2 separate regions of the Homo sapiens genome follow, and region 2 is linked to region 1. The links come from fine-mapping of genetic effects on gene expression. Tissue or cell type: whole blood. Region 1 holds a variant in brackets; the other region holds the start of a gene. All regions are shown on one strand. Distances are from middle to middle.

The links. PIP is the estimated chance that this variant, and not a neighbour inherited with it, causes the effect.
Region 2: MLF2 starts here. The variant in region 1 is fine-mapped to the expression of MLF2 in whole blood (TOPMed, PIP above 0.99).

What each region holds. Positions count from the first base shown.
Region 1 is chr12:6,780,041-6,788,229 of GRCh38, reverse strand. It overlaps the pseudogene RN7SL380P. Among named protein-coding and RNA genes, the nearest start is that of CD4, 5.4 kb to the left of the region's middle. RefSeq lists a silencer at 1,153-1,447. The variant G/C (reference allele first, on the strand shown) is at 3,232.
Region 2 is chr12:6,748,583-6,756,728 of GRCh38, reverse strand. It overlaps MLF2 (myeloid leukemia factor 2), which reads left to right and starts at 3,588. Exons shown (of 9, transcript NM_001382226.1): 1 at 3,588-3,790; 2 at 4,367-4,444; 3 at 4,675-4,804; 4 at 5,053-5,088; 5 at 5,963-6,016; 6 at 6,424-6,552; 7 at 6,722-6,881; 8 at 7,747-7,959. The coding sequence starts at 4,395. The coding sequence ends at 7,934. RefSeq lists enhancers at 3,032-3,201, 3,232-3,281 and a silencer at 3,452-3,691.

The DNA of each region.
Region 1 (8,189 bases):
ATAAAATTAGTATTTACTGCTTCATTAAAGGCATTCTATATATATATATATATATATTTTTTTTTTTTTTTTTTTTTGAGAGGGAGTCTCACTCTGTTGCCCAGGCTAGAGTGCAGTGGCGTGATCTTGGCTCACTGCAACCTCTGCCTCCCGGGTTCAAGCAATTCTCCTGCCTCAGCCTCCCAAGTAGCTGGGGCTACAGGCATGCGCCACAATGCCCAGCTAATTTTTGTATCTTTAGTAGAGATGGGGTTTCACCATGTTGCCCAGGATGGTCTTGATCTCTCTTTTTTTTTTTTTTTTTTTTGAGACAGAGTCTTGCTTTGTCATCCAGGCTGAAGTGCAGCAGCATGATTTCGGCTTACTACAACCTCCGCCTCCTGGATTCAAGCCATTCTCCTGCCTCAGCCTCCCGAGTAGCTGGGATTACAGGCACCCGCCAACATGCCTGGCTAATTTTTGTATTTTTGTAGAGACAGGGTTTCACTCGTTGGCCAGGCTGGTCTTGAACTCCTGACCTCAGGTGATCCTGATCTGCCCGCTTCGGCCTCCCAAAGTGCTGGGATTACAGGCACGAGCCACTGCGCCCGGCCTCATTAAGGGCATTCTTAAGTAAAAGTGGCATTAATTTTTTTTCTTTTTTTACTGTAAGTACCTGGCAGTGAAGAATGCAATGACTATCATATGGTTTGGCACCACTGCCTTCATTTATGCTAAGGCAGCAGTTTTATCCAGATTGTTTTTGCAACATTATTGCAATGTCAACATAGTGACAAAGGAAAATAACATCCTGTATTTTTTTATGAAAATAGCTTGACCTTGAAGATCCCCTGAAAGGGTCTCAGGGACTCCCAAGGGTCTGCAGGCCACACTTCACTCTGAGAACCACTGATCTAGGTAATTTTTATTCATTCTTCAGATCTCAGCTATCGCTTTAGCTGTCCCCAAAGTCTATTTTCTCCTTCTTGGTAATAGAACCCTCAATTTTTAGCTGAGCTCTTAGCTACCCAGATTTAAAATATACTTCCCAGCCTCCCTCACAGCTGGATGTGTCCAAGTGACTCAATTTTGGTTAATAGATAGAAGTGAAAGTATTAGGTGCAACCTCAGAGTTGCTCCTCAAAGTGGGGAAAATGTATCCTCCTCAGGCCTTCTTCCTTCAGACTAGAAAGCAAACACCCTCCCTATTGTTCACAGCCAGTCTGCTTTTCTCATTTACATTACCTGGCAGGCTCTGGTAGGCATTGATGTTTTGAGCCCTGCTCCATTCATTCATGTACGTAGTTAAGCGTGTACCAGCCCAAGGCACTCTGCTAGGTAGCTGGGGATGTGATGTTGAAGAAGACAGATATGGTCACCACTCCAGCTTATGACATAGACACTAAACAACGAACAACTTCATTACAATTCGACAAGCGCTACAAAGGAAAAAGCACAAGGTGCTGGGAGATCTTATCACAAAAGAACCTTCTTTCAACTGGGAGAATTGTCTATCGGTAAGCACTGGGTTCTGCTACAAGCAAAAGAAAACCCAAAATAATAGAGGCTTCAACAAGATTGAAGTTATTTTTCACATGTAGGAAGTGTGGAGGTGGGTGGTGCAGAAGAGAGGGAGCAGCACGCCGTCCTCCAGGGCCAAGATTGGGGCTGTTTATATTTTGTTGCTCTACCATTCTCCTGCACAGGACTTCCTCCCCAGAGTCTCAGAGGATACTCAGGTTCCTCAGTTGAAATCAGTTTTCCTTGTGATAAGATCTCCCAGTCCCCTGTGCTTCTCCCTTCGTAGCAATTTTCCAGTTGCAATGAAGTTATTTGCTGCTTAGTGTCTAGCTCACAGGCCAGAGCGGTGACCGTGTCTGTCTTAGTTAGCACTATGTTCCCAGCACCCTCACAGATGCCTTGGCCCTGGAAGACCCTTAATGCTTGTTTAATATTTTCCTAATATATTAAATTTTATTGATATTAAATTTATTGCGGTAAAATACACGCAACATAAGATTTTCCATTTTAAGCTTTTTTTTTTTTTTTTTCCAAGACGGAGTCTTACTCTGTCCCCCAGGCTGGAGTGCAGTGGCACAATCTAGGTTCACTGCAACCTCCACCTCCTGGGTTCAAGCGATTCTCCAGCCTCAGCCTCCCGAGTAGCTGGGACTACAGGTGCCCGCCACCACGCCTGGCTAATTTTTGTATTTTTAGTAAAGACGGGGTTTCACCATGTTGGCCAGGCTGGTCTCGAATTCCTGACCTCAAGTGATCTGCTCACCTTGGCCTCCCAAAGTGTTGGGATTACAGGTGTGAGTCACCACACCCGGCCATTTTAGGCATTTTTTAATGTACTGCTCTGTGGGACTGAGTACACTCACATGGTTGTGTAACCATCTAGAAATTTTTCATCTTCCCCAAATGAAACTCTGTACCCATTAAATACTGACTCCTCATTCTAACTCCCTGCAACTCCTGGCTATTGAATAATATTTTTTTTTCTTTTTTCTTTTCTTTTTTTTTTGGAAACAGAGTCTTGCTCTGTCGCCGAGGCTCGAGTGCAGTGGTGTGATCTCGGCTCACTGCAACCTCCGCCTCCCAGGTTCAAGCGAATCTCCTGCCTCAGACTCCCGAGTATCTGGGATTACAGGCGTGCGCCACCAAGCCTGGCTAATTTTTGTATTTTTAGTACAGACAGGGTTTCACCATGTTGGCCAGGCTGGTCTCGAACTCCTGACCTCAAGTGATTCTCCTGCCTCTGCCTCCCAAAGTGCTGGGATTATAGGCGTGAGCCACTGCACCAGGCCAAATAATTTTTGAATGGATAAATAGAGAAGTATGGACAAGAGCAGGAGAGCAGGGCTACAAATGTAAATGCTTACAGGAGCCCCCTAGGTAGTGCAAATGAGAAAGGTACACTGGTGGTGACCAAAAGGGAAGGGTAGGGACTGGGGGAAACCAGAGAGTACTTGCCTCAGCTAGTTAAGGGCAGCCATTCCCTGCATAGCTGTCTGAGTTGACCGTAGAGGCTATACTGGCATGTGAGCCTAGAGTTGCCTGCTCTGCCAAAATTTCTAGAGAAGGTGAAAACCAGACATTTATGTAATACCTCCTGATTTTAATATTGGTAACAAATTTTTTCAACTTGTCGTGACACTGGGTAGAGCAAACAGAGCATTCCAAGGGCTGGCTCTAGCTTTGGGCCCACCGGTTTGCAGATTCCAGACCCGATGGACGGTGTGAGAACTT[G/C]CAGCTCTGTGAGTCTGTGGCCTGGAAGTCAACGGTCCTGAGAACCTGGCTCTCTCTCTGGGGTTTCCAAACAGGAAAAGAAAAAAGGAAGAGAGAGGGTGAGTTTATAGTAAACATTTGGCATTGTTGTGTGCTTTATGTGGTTGTATCTTTTATTTAATCCTCATGAGAGTGATAAGACATAGGTATTATTGTCCAGGCCATACAGATGAGGAAACTGAGGCTTGAAGAGTTTTTTGTTTTCTTAGACAAGGTCTCGTTCTGTCACCCAGGCTGCAGTGCAGTGGCACGGTCACAGCTCACTGCAGCCTCAACCTCCAGGGCTCAATCTATCCTCCCGCCTTAGCCTCTCAAGTAGCTGGAACTACAGGCATGTGCCACTGTACCCAGCTAAATTTTTTTTTCCCCTAGAGATGGGGTTTTGCTATGCTTCCCAGGCTGATCTCAAACTCCTAGGTTCAAGCAATCCACCCACCTCAGCCTCCCAAAGTGCTGGGATTACAGGCATGAGTCACACTGTGCCTAGCCGAAGAGTTTCAGTTGTCAAAGGTCTCAGAGCTAGTAACCACAGCTGGTGGAACCGGGATTTGAATTCACCCGCTTGGACCCCAGTTTCTGGGTGGTCCCCCTCATTGCACTGCCTCTCCTCTGCATTAAGAAGGTCCAGGACCAGGCATGGTGGCTCGTGCCTGTAATCCCAGCACTTTGGGAGGCCGAGGCGGGCGGATTGTGATGTCAGGAGATCCAGACCATCCCGGCTAACACGGTGAAACCCCATCTCTACTAAAAATACAAAAACAAAAACAAAAACAAACAAACCAAAAAAAGAAGGTCCAGGCGGGGCGTGGTGCCGAGTGCCTGTAGTCTCAGCTACTCAGGAGGCTGAAGCAAGAGGATGCCTTGAGCCCAGGAGTTCTGGGCTGTAGTGCACTATGCAGATCAGGTGTCTGCACTGAGTTCAGCTTCAGCGTGGTGACCTCCCGGGAGTGGGGAACCACCAGATTGCCTGAGGAGGGGTGAGCCAGCCCAGGCCGGACACACAATGGGTCACAATTTCCATGCTACCCATGCTAATCAGCAGTGGGATCGGGCCTGTAAATAGCCACTGCGCACCAGCCTGGGCAACATAACGAGAACCCACCTCTAAAAAAAAAATAAAAAATAAAAAAAGAAGAAGAAAGGCCAGGATGACAGCTAAGAGAAGTCTTCTCCCTTAGCAGTGGAGGGAGGTATGAGGCCCACTGCCTCACCTGGAGCTTCTGAGGCTCAGCAGTGCCATGGTCCTCACATCTCTAGAGTGGTTTTCCATTTTCCAAGCACTTTCACATTCATTTGTACATGCCAGACCTTTTTGGTAGGTGTTGCTGTTACTATCCTTACTTTACAGAAGAAGAAATGGAAGTCAAGCTGTCTGCCCCCATCACATGTCTGAAAGCATGGAACAGGGGGAGTTCCAGAGGCTATTTTTGCTGCATGTATCCTGCCTCTCTAGGCTGTAGAACGGGAGGAGGCCAAGCCAGGGGAAGGAGTGATGGGGAAGAGAGAGAAGCCGGTGTCAGAGGCTACAGACAGAGTGCTGGAGACTGGATGATCTGAGAGGCCTAGGGCAGCCAGGGTTGCAGGAAAGTTGAAAGCCCCAGGTGCAACTCTGCGGTGGCCTCCTTACCAGAAGTATCTTTGGCAGCACTGACGCCCTCTGCAAAGGGGGCTGGGGGCAGGGTTTGAGGATGGGGAGCAGGGGAGGGGTCTTTGGGGCTGTTCTCTGGGAAGCAAAGTCTAGGAGCATCGATGCCATCTCTACCCCATCCACATTTCCCCTGGCTCCAGGACCACTTTTTGCCACTCTCAGAGGGTGGTTCTGGGCCTCCCCTACCCCACGGGAAGTTTGAGTAGGCACGTTTCAGAGCTCAGCCCGGGCTCAGACAGCTGACACCTGCAGCCCCTTGGAGAAACTGTCAGCCACAGAGTGGAGCAGATAGAACCGACCCCACCCCAAAGCAATTCCCTTCAAAGGAAGAACCCCACCCTGGGGTGGGCCTGTGCGGGGGACCCTAAGCTCCTTGATCTCCTCCTTTGAAGGAGGGATAGCAGCAGGGGCTCAGGCCTGAACCCTAACATCTCTACCTGGTAGGGGAGGTGGGCAGGGAAATTTCTGGGCCTGCAGAGGCTCCTCCTCTGCACTATGGAGCTGAGAAGACCACGTCAGGGGTAGGGGAACCGCTGGCAAACCCGACTCCAAGGCTGAATGTGCACAGTATGGCCTCCTACCTCACACACTCGACTTGCCAAGGCCCTGGACCTCACTTGGCTTCCAGAACTTCTGGAGAGTGGACAAGAGAAGAGGGCTGGGGATGGAGATGCTCAGAGACGTCCCTTCCCGTCTCTTGGCCTATCTCTGTTTCAGGCACTGCTCCCCACTCTGACAGCCAGGCTGCAAGATGGCCCCCAGTGACTCCTGTCTCCCTCAGTTCACACCCTTGCATTGCCCCCTCCTGCTTGCACCAGGTTGGTCTCTGTGATCAATAGAATAGGGCAGAAATTATGGCACGTTGCTTTCAAGATCAAATCTAATCTTGAAATAAAGATGTGGTAGCTTTTGTCTTTTCCACGCTGTCCCTCTGGGGGAAGCCAGTTGCTGTGTCGTGTTGTGAGAGGCCCCATAAAGACACCCACACAGGGAGGAGTTAAGGCCTCTGGCCGACAGCCTCCCGAGTGAGCTGTCTTGGAGGCAGAATCTCCAGCCCCATCCCAGCCTTCAGATGGCTCCAGACCTGACCCTCACCTCAGCAGCAACCTCATGAGCAACCCTGTGCCAGAACTACTCAGCAAGACTGCTCCTGGATTCCTCGTTGTGTGAGATAATGTTTATTATTATTGTTATTATTCTTTTTAGACACAGGATCTCACCCTGTCACCCAAGCTGGAGTGAAATAGCACAATCATGGCTCACTACAGCCTGGAAATCCTAGCCTCCAGTGATTCTTCTCCCTCAGCCTCCTGAATAACTAGGACCACAGGTGCATGCCACCGTGCCCAGCTCATTTTTAAATTCAAAAAGAAAAAAAAATGGTAGGCTGGGTGTGGTGGTTCACGCCTGTAATCCCAGCACTTTGGGAGGCCGAGGCAGGCGGATCACGAGGTCAGGAGATCCAGACCCATCCTAGCTAACACAGTGAAACCCCGTCTCTACTAAAAACACAGAAAGTTAGCCGGGCGTGGTGGCTGGCGCCTGTAGTCCCAGCTACTCCAGAGGCTGAGGCAGGAGAATTGCTTGAACCCGAGAGGCGGAGCTTGCAGTGAGCCGAGATGGCACCAAACTGCACTCCAGCCTGGGCGACAAAAGCAAAACTCTGTCTCAAAAATAATTTATTAATTATTAATTAAAATACAAAAATTCAAAAATTAGCAGGGTGTGGTGGTATGCACCTGTAGTCCCAGCTACTTGGGAGGCTGAGGCAGGAGAATCGCTTGAGCCCGGGAGATGGAGGTTGCAGTGAGCCGAGATCAAGCCACTGCACTCCAGCCTGGGTGACAGAGTGAGACTCTGTCTCAAAAAAAAAAAAAAAGTAGAAGTGTGATCTCACTAAGTCACCCAGGCTGGTCTCACACTCCCGGCCTCAAGCAATCCTCCTGCCTCAGTCTCCCAAAGTGTTGGGATTACCAGTGTGAGCCACCACACCCAGCTTATTATTTTAAATTACTAAGTTTTAGGGTAATTTGTTTGTTATACGCCAATAGGTAACTCACGCACCCCCCTTCCTTCTTAACAAGGAGCTGAGATGATTCCCACCCACCCACCCACTGAAGCTCCCTGAGCTCGTGGCCTCCTGATGCTCCTTCCCCTCCAGGACCGCAGCCTGGAACACTGGTTTACAGATCAACCTGGAGAAGCCAAATGAATTAACCAAGCTCCCTAGGGGCCTTTGGAGGACAGGAAAAGGGCTGGAGATTATCCTGCCAGACGGAGAGTGGGGGGCTGTGGGAAGAGGAGTGGGAGCAGAATGTCACCCTGAGGAGAGACCCCACAGAGAAGCACTCACGGAATGCAGCCCATATGCCCTTTCTTCCTTCTGCCCTTTGCTCTTCTCTAAGGGGTAAAGGAAAAAGGAGGCCCTTCGTTCTGCCTCTGTCCCCTCCCTGTCCCCTTTATGAAAGAGCATGGGGAAGTCCCCGCATAGGCCTCAGTGAATCTTCGATGACTACTCTCATAAGCCCAAAGGGCATAGGATGTTAGCTAGTAAAAAGGAAAAATGCCACCCACAGAACTTTCCAGGAAACCCCTGCCCTATTAAAATATCAGGGCTTCCACTAAGGCTGTGGGGAGCAGGGTCCTGGGCTGGAGCTGAGGAGTCTCTGAGCAGCAGCGAAGGGTAGGAACGATGCTTTGGAGGCTTCTTGTTTTTTGTTTTTGAGACAGGATCTCACTCTGTCACCCAGGCTGGAGTATAGTGGCACGATTATGGCTCACTGCAGCCTCAACCTCCCAGGCTTAGGTGATCCTCCCACCTCAACCTCCCAAATAGCTGGGACCACAGGGGCGTACCAGCATGCCCAACTAACTTTTTTTTTTTTTTTTTAGAGATGAGGTCTCACTATACTGCCCAGGCTGGTCTCGAACTCCTGGGCTCAAGCAATCCTTCTGCCTCCGCCTCCCAAAGTGCTGAGATTACAGGCATAAGCCATGACACCTGGCCTGGAAGCTTCTAAAAGGACTTCAAGACTTCCTTTTGCAGTGTGATCATCTCTGGCAGGGCCAGAGCTTCCTCCTTCCTGTGCCAGTGTTTCTCTGCCAGTGACAAGGCAAGAGTCATCACCATCCTGAGGCTCAGAACCTCAGATTGCTGTAAATGGTTCATTGTTCAGGCTTCAGAGGGTCCCCCCTCTACCTAAGGCTCTGCACAGAACAAAGGTGTCACCTTCTTCATCGTCTGTCTCTAATGAGTGACTATTGTGTCTCT
Region 2 (8,146 bases), 31 kb after region 1:
TTGGGAGGCTGAGGCGGGCAGATCACGAGGTCAGGAGATCAAGACCATCCTGGCTAACACGGTGAAACCCTGTCTCTACTAAAAATATAAAAAAATTAGCCAGGTGTGCGGGCACCTGTAGTCCCAGCTACTCGGGAGGCTGAGGTAGGAGAATGGCGTGAACCCGGGAGGCGGAGCTTGCAGTGAGCCGAGATCGTGCCACTGCACTCCAGCCTGGGCGACAGAGTGAGACTCCGTCTCAAAAAAAAAAAAAAAAAAAAGAGGGAGGGAGAGAGGGAAAAGACAAGAGGGATGGAGGAAGGGAGAGAGGAAGAGAGTGAAGGAGAAGAGAGGAAAGGAAATGAAGGAGAGGGAGAGACCCGGAGAAGGAAGACAGACACAAACTCTGGTTACTTGCAAAATTACATCCCTTTAATTCCTGGAGTAGACAACTGCCTATATGGTATGTCTCCAAGAACTCTGAAAATGGGCTCTTGCATTTGCTCTTTCATCCTCACCTGTTCAAGAGGTTTTTTTTTTTTCTTTTTTTCTTTTTTAGAGACAGGGCCTTGCTCTGTCTCCCAGGCTGGAGTGCAGTGGTGTGATTATGGCTCAAGCAATCCTCCCACCGCAGCCTCCCAAGTAGCTGGGACTACAGGCACACACCACCACACCTGGCTAATTTTTTTTACTGAAGAGACAACGTCTCACTATGTTGCTCAGGCTGGTCTCCAACTCCAGGGCTCAAACGAGCCTCCTGCCTTGGCTTCCCAAAGTGTTGGAATTACAGGTGTGAGTCACTGTGCCTGGCCAACAATTTCCTTTTTTTTTTTTCTTTTTTTTATTGAGACGGAGCCTTGCTCTGTCGCCCAGGCTGGAGTGCAGTGGCAAGATCTCGGCTCATTGCAACCTCTGCTGCTGGGTTCAAGCGATTCTCATGCCTCAGCCTCCCAAGTAGCTGGGAGTACAGGCACGTGCCACTATGCCTGGCTAATTTTTTTGTATTTTTAGTAGAGACAGGGTTTTGCCATGTTGGCCAGGTTGGCCAGGCTAGTCTCGAACTCCTGACCACAAGTGATCCAACCACCTCGGCCTCCCAAAGTGCTGGGATTACAGGCGTGAGCTACCGCGCCTGGCCAGCAGATTCTTAAGTTTTGGAAGGAAGAAGAGAAAGGACTCTAGGCACCTAAAGGCGGTACGTAAAGGATAGCAGGTGGCTGAGCACAGTGGTTCATGTCTGTAATCCCAGCACTTTGGGAGGCCAAGTTTGGGCGAATCACTTGAGCTCAGGAGTTTGAGACCAGCCTGGGCAACATGATGAAACTCCCCATCTCTACAATTTAATTAAAAAAAAAACAAAAAAACGGATAACAGGTAACTAAAAAAGAAAAAGGTGGCTACAAGACTGTATGCCTTCAATTGGCAGAGACCGTGTCTTATATTTTGTATGTATGCTTAATACAATGTACCTAGGACAGTTCCAGGCCTCATTAAACATTTGCTTTTTATTTTTATTTTTATTTTTTTTGGAACAGAGTCTCGCTCCATCCCCCAGGCTGGAGTGCAATGGCGTGATCTCGGCTCACTGCAACCTCCACTTCCCAGGCTCAAGTGATTCTCCTGCCTCAGCCTACTTGTGGGATTACAGGTGCTTGCTACCATGCCCGGCTAATTTTCGTTTTTGTTGTAGTTGTTGTTTTGAGACGGAGTCTCACTGTCGCCCAGGCTGGAGTGCAGTGGCACAATCTTGGCTCACTGCAATCTCCATCTCCTGGGTTCAAGCGATTCTCCTGCCTCAGCTTCCTGAGTAGCTGGGATTACAGACATGTGCCACCACGCCCAGCTAATTTTTGTATTTTTAGTAGAGACTGGATTTCACTTTGTTGGTCAGGCTGGTCTCGAACTCCTGATCTTGTGATGTGCCCGCCTCAGCCTCCCAAAGTGTTGGGATTACAGGCGTGAGCCACTGCGCCAGGCCTTAAACATTTGTTGATTGGCTGGACAATAAAGAACTTGCTTTAGAAGGAGGAGAGGACAAAAGAAAAAAAATGGATAGGATCTCTTTAGTTAAGTTTCAGCCACAGAACCTTTACTGGGACAACTCTTGATCACATGTCAAACTGCTTTCATTTGGGGCAAGAGGATAAGGGGAAGTTGCATGGTGGGAAGTGCAGAGATCTGGAAGACAGAAGATTTTACTAAGTCTCTTCCCCCAGAAATAGCAATGAAAAACAAATTTACTTGTATTCTGTCTGTTTTCCTTTGACTTGCCAGTCTGTCAGCTTATATCTTAATTATCTATCTCTGCTCCCTGTCTCTATTATTGTTTTTTCCTCTTTAATAATGATCAAGTCCAAAGAAACGTGAGAAGCCCTGTTCCTAGCACCTTTTCCTGAGTCACCAGGGACCCCCTCTTTCTCCCCCAGGGAATTACTGGGAACAAGTCTTTCTCATTGGGTCAGACTCCACACAGCACTAATATGGCTAAAAGCCAGAGTAAAGAACCAGGGAAAGCTGGAGTTTGGATGAGTCTGGTTAAAGTCCATCCTAGACAGTCCAAATGCCCTGACCCCAAAGGGGAAGGCCCTTCTCTCCAGCAGAGCCAGATTTTATGCAAGACATTTAGTATGTCAAAGTATCAGTCTCTGGCCTTGGAGGCAGGTCTTCTGGGCCCCGTTTTAGCTCCTCCCCTGGGTGATCCAGGTTAACTGAGCTCTCCACTCCTTTGTTCCCCCAAACTTTAGACCTTTGACCTAAGAAAGCAACCAAGAAAGGTCAGTGCAGGACTGGGAGCTCTTGAGGACACAAGAATTAGAGTAAAAGGAAGGGGAGAGTGGCATTAAACTAATAGATTCAGAACTGTAGCCTTTCCCCAGTCCAACCCTTCACAGATGGGTAACGGGGGAGGGTCCAGGTCCCTCTCCAACGCGAGTTCTCAAGGGCCTCCGGTTCCAGCCTGGCCGAGGAGCGCCATCTGGCGGCCAACCCCCCAACCTGGATCCTCTGCCCCATCCGACTTTCTGAAGCCCGAACTAGATCTGGGCTGGAGAGTTTCACCTCCTCTGCGTCACTCCGGGGACTCCGCCCTGCCAGGAACGCTCCTCCTCAAGCGGGGACAGGCCCAAGCGCCTCCCCCGCAGGAAAACTGCCCATCCTCCCTCTAGGGTAGACTGCTTCTCCAGTAGAGTCGGCTTAAAGCTCCCCCCAGGGATCCGCCCCGCCTCGTCGCCCACAGAGCGCCCGCCTCTCCCCAAGGGGCATCTGCCCCTCGTCCTCCAGTTTCCCCTTGAGGAGGGAGAGAGAACGTGCTGCACTGCGCCCCCAGGTTCAACCTCCAACCCGGTCCCTCCCGAAGAATGGATTCCTCTTCTCCTTCTCCTCCCCTGCCTTATGGGAGCCTCTTCCAGTCCACAGAACCCAAATCGAGGTTACTAATGAGCTCCCCTTCTTCGTGCCCAGGGGACCCCTCTCGGCCTCAGGCTCTGCTCCCCTGAGCTTGGCCCATGGCCCCGGCGCCCCTGGGACTCGGCCCCAGCCATCTCACCACCCGCGCCAGGGGGCGGGGCTCCCACGGCCCGGCCCCGGGTGGGCGGGTCTATCGTGACGTCACTTCCGCCCGGGCCTGGCCGAGGTTCGGGCTCCGTTGGCCGAGGGGGCCGTACGGAGGTGGCAGCTGTGGGAGGAGGCGGCGTGGAAGGCCGAGGAGCTCAAGCCCGGACCAATCCCCACGTTCCGGGCCGCGACCCTGACCCTGCAGCGTACCGGGAAGCGAAACCGGCCGGATGGGCCGCTGAGCCCGAATCGGGCACTGGTGAGGCTCGGGCAGAGCTGGCAGCCCCGGACGGGAGCGGGCCCACGGGGCTGCAGGGTCTGGGAGCCCGGGATGCGGGGTGGGGAGAGGAGAGGCTCAGGCCTACCTCTCCTGCTCGCCTGGCGGGGAGGCGGGAGCTAGAGGAGTCGCAGACAGGCGCGGGGGGCTTAGTGAGGCCCGCCTGGGGGAGGCCTGAGTGTAAGGAGGGGGCGGGGTGACTGGGGTCATTAATGGGGCGGAGGACCTGCACTTGGCATTCTCATCTAGAACGGTGTCGTCGGCGGGAGGAGGGGAGAGTATGCTACCGGCCAGAGCTTTGGGAAGAGGATGGCTCTGAGTGGGGGAGGGAAAAACCGAGAGGGTTGGAAAAATTTTCCATGGCCCTAATTGAGAAAGAGGTTTGAAGAGCCCTTCCCTCCCTAGAGGGTTGTGTGGAACACCTGGAGTAGGGTCTCCCTGGAGTTTAGGGGGTCAGTTACAGGATTTGGAAAGGACAGTGCTCTGAGAGTCCCCACACTGAGTGGGTGTGCAAAACCCTGGCCACCTCCAAGTATCTGAGCTTCCATATCTTTCCAGTGTGGAGCCCCCTGGAGCTGAGATCAGGATGTTCCGCTTCATGAGGGACGTGGAGCCTGAGGATCCCATGTTCCTGATGTGAGTATTCCCTCCCCCTCAAGCTCTCCCACTCCAGGTCTCTGAGCAGTTCAGGCAGACATCGGGGTTCCCATTGCTAGGAATGGTTGGAACTGGCTGGATACCTAGCTCCTACCTAGCAGGAAGTAGGCATCGGTGCCACTGTTGCTCTGTGCGTATTTTTTTGCAGGGTGGTGGAGGGATTGACAGTTTGGCGCTTCTGCCATCCATACTATGTGCTCACTCCACAGGGATCCCTTTGCTATTCACCGTCAGCATATGAGCCGTATGTTGTCAGGTGGCTTTGGATATAGCCCCTTCCTCAGCATCACAGATGGCAACATGCCAGGGACCAGGCCTGCCAGCCGCCGGATGCAGCAGGTAATGATGCTGAGACACACCTGAGACCCAAAGAAAGGTTGGAGGTTAGTTAGGAAAGCACTTAATTTTCTTGCACTACAGCCAACTGAGCAAGTGAAATGCTCTAGGAGTTGGGGAAAGGGTCAGGAAAAAGGGCTTTGTGACTCCCTTTTGAGAGGATGGAAAAAAATTGAGGCCATGGGCCTGGTTTGGGATTGTAAAGAGATAGGATGTGGTCTCTAATTTCTGTTCCTCATGTGTTCCTGTAGGCTGGAGCTGTCTCCCCCTTTGGGATGCTGGGAATGGTGAGTCTTTATCTCCCTGTGTCCTTCCATCTCAGACACACTCTCTACCCTTAGATATTATTCCCAAATGTGCCTCTTAGGAATAGTTTCATGAGTAACCCCAGAATCTTCTCTTTTTATGGCATTCACAAAGCTCTGAGCCTGTTGGGTACTAGGAGCCCTGTGGGTTAAAGGTGTTAAACTCTTGTTGGGAGGCCGAGATGGGTGATCACTTGCAGTCAGAAGTTCGAGACCAGACTGGCCAACATGGTGAAACCCCGTCTCTACTAAAAATACCAAAAAAGCCAGGCATGGTGGCACACACCTGTAGTCCCAGCTACTCTTGAATCCGGGAGGTGGAGATTGCAGTGAGCCGAGACTGCGCCACTGCCCTCCAGCCTGGGCAACAGAGCCAGACTCCATCTCAAAAAAAAAAAAAAGAAAAGATGTTATTAACTGTTGTACTCCTAGAAGTTCATACGCATTAGGAAGATGTAATTGTCTAGCAAAATTTGTTCTTTTGAGGAGGGAAGTGCAGTTAAAGGGCCAACTAGAGATGATTTTTTGGTAGGTTTTAACAATTTCATGCCTTACCTCTTTAGAGTTTAGAATCCATTACTTTGGCTTGCTTCCTAAAGATGGGGGGAATATAGCAAGCAGGAGAAGGAAAATTGGATCACAGCAGTCACAGAGACTGAGGAAGGGGTCAGCAGTTCACAGGAGGAGAAATATGAGTATTCTGGTTATTTTAACAGAATGAGAAAGAGAACTTGCTAGATGTGAAGGAAGAAGAGAAAGGAAATGTGCAGCCATGTGGGTTGTGGGTTCCTAAACAGGATCAACTCTGAACACTGACTTTGCTTTCCTGACTCTGTTTTCCATCTCTTTCCTCCAGTCGGGTGGTTTCATGGACATGTTTGGGATGATGAATGACATGATTGGAAACATGGTGAGACTTGCCCCATACCCTTCCCCGGCCTTGCTCTCAGTGATGGCTGACAACACCTTGCATCCTCTAAGGCAAGAGGGAAACAGTATGCTAGTGAAGGGTAAAGTACTGGATAAAGTAATTGAACCAGAGAGCCTTGGGACCCTGTACCTGCTGTCATGCCTGCCTGAAGCAGCCGGCAGCAGCTCTCTTACGTAGCATACAATTAAGGCCCTGTCTCTTCAGGTCCTTCTTGCTCGTGGTTGGACTCAGAGGAATTTGGGAGGGTAATGATGAGGCCTGATGTTTTTTCAGTTCTTGCATTTTGTGAGAAAGATACAGGCTAGAACAGGCAGCTGAAGGGTGAAATCCCTTCACCAGGGGTGATGCCTCCCCATTCAGCCCTCCCCTACCTACCCTGTCCTCAGGAACACATGACAGCTGGAGGCAATTGCCAGACCTTCTCATCTTCCACTGTCATCTCCTACTCCAATACGGGTGATGGTGCCCCCAAGGTCTACCAAGAGACATCAGAGATGCGCTCGGCACCAGGCGGGGTGAGTTGGGGAGCCCTCCTGTCCCAGAGAAGGTAGGATTGAGCGGCACCGCCAGAAACCCTGGCTGCTTTTTTCCGGATTGGGTTGTGTGTGGTGTGTTTATCCTGAGATGGTATAGGCAGGGCTTTGGAAGGGGCGGCTGAGTGTGCCACGTTCTGCCTCATCCCAGATCCGGGAGACACGGAGGACTGTTCGGGATTCAGACAGTGGACTGGAGCAGATGTCCATTGGGCATCACATCCGGGACAGGGCTCACATCCTCCAGCGCTCCCGAAACCATCGCACGGGGGACCAGGAGGAGCGGCAGGACTATATCAACCTGGATGAGAGTGAGCCTTCCCTCCCGCTTCCTGGCTGGCAGCCCCTAACCCGGTTCCCGTGGACATCCCTAACACATAGACACTTCTGGGGCAAAGCTCTGGGTCAGCCCCATATTCCTTTTTTTTTTTTTTTGAGATGGAGTCTCGCTCTTGTTGCCCAGGTGCCCAGGCTGGAGTGCAGTGGCGCGATCTCAGCTCACTGCAACCTCCGCCTCCCGGGTTTAAGCAATTCTCCTGCCTCAGCCTCCCGTGTAGCTGGAACTACAGGCATGTGCCACCACGCCCAGCTAATTTCTGTATTTTTAGTAGAGACAGGGTTTCACCATGTTGGGCAGGCCGTTCTCGAACTCCTGACCTTGTGATCCACCCACCGACCGTTGGCCTCCCAAAGTGCCGGGATTACAGGCATGAGCCACTGCACCCAACTGTCAGTCCCATATTCTTACCGCACTTGGAGCCTCCTCCGCTCGGGCGGAGTCAGGTGCTGGCGGTGTCTTTGTGAGGGGCCTACTTTGTCCCTGAAGTTCCGTATTGATAGTGTTACACCCTTCTCCACCTTGATCCGTTTCTTTCTCCCCTCTTTATCTTTTTCAAATCCGCAATTATTAAGTACCTAGTGTGCACATAGGACTGTGAACCTGAACTGAAGAATAATCCCATTCTGATTTCTTCCTCCAGTAGGCCACCTTACGCCTACCGGTGGCTTCCTGGGACCGTGCAGAAACCAAAAGAGCTAAGGGAATTGCCACCCCACCCATCCCTGCACGCACACTCAGCCTTCGCCGCTTTGGCCCGAAAAGCTGTGGCTCGCTCGCACATCGGCCTCCAGGAGCCAGGCCGCACACAGGCCTCATGTCCGCTCTGTCCTTTCCAGGTGAGGCCGCAGCGTTTGATGACGAGTGGCGGCGGGAGACCTCCCGATTCCGGCAGCAGCGTCCCCTGGAGTTTCGGCGGCTTGAGTCCTCAGGGGCTGGGGGACGAAGGGCGGAGGGGCCTCCCCGCCTGGCCATCCAGGGACCTGAGGACTCCCCTTCCCGACAGTCCCGCCGCTATGACTGGTGAGGGCCCCGGGCCCTCAGCCTCTCTTGTAAGTATCAGGAGTAAGGAGGGTGGGGTGCACCTGCGGACGGTCCTCGGCTGCAAGGCAGGCTCAGTTCAGGCTCCCGCAGGAGCTGCCTTTGGTAGTACAAGTTGACATGGAAAGAGAACAATGTTCTCACTGACATAGGGGATTAAACCCCAACTCCTGGCTCTTAACGTAAGTTTTTTCTTCC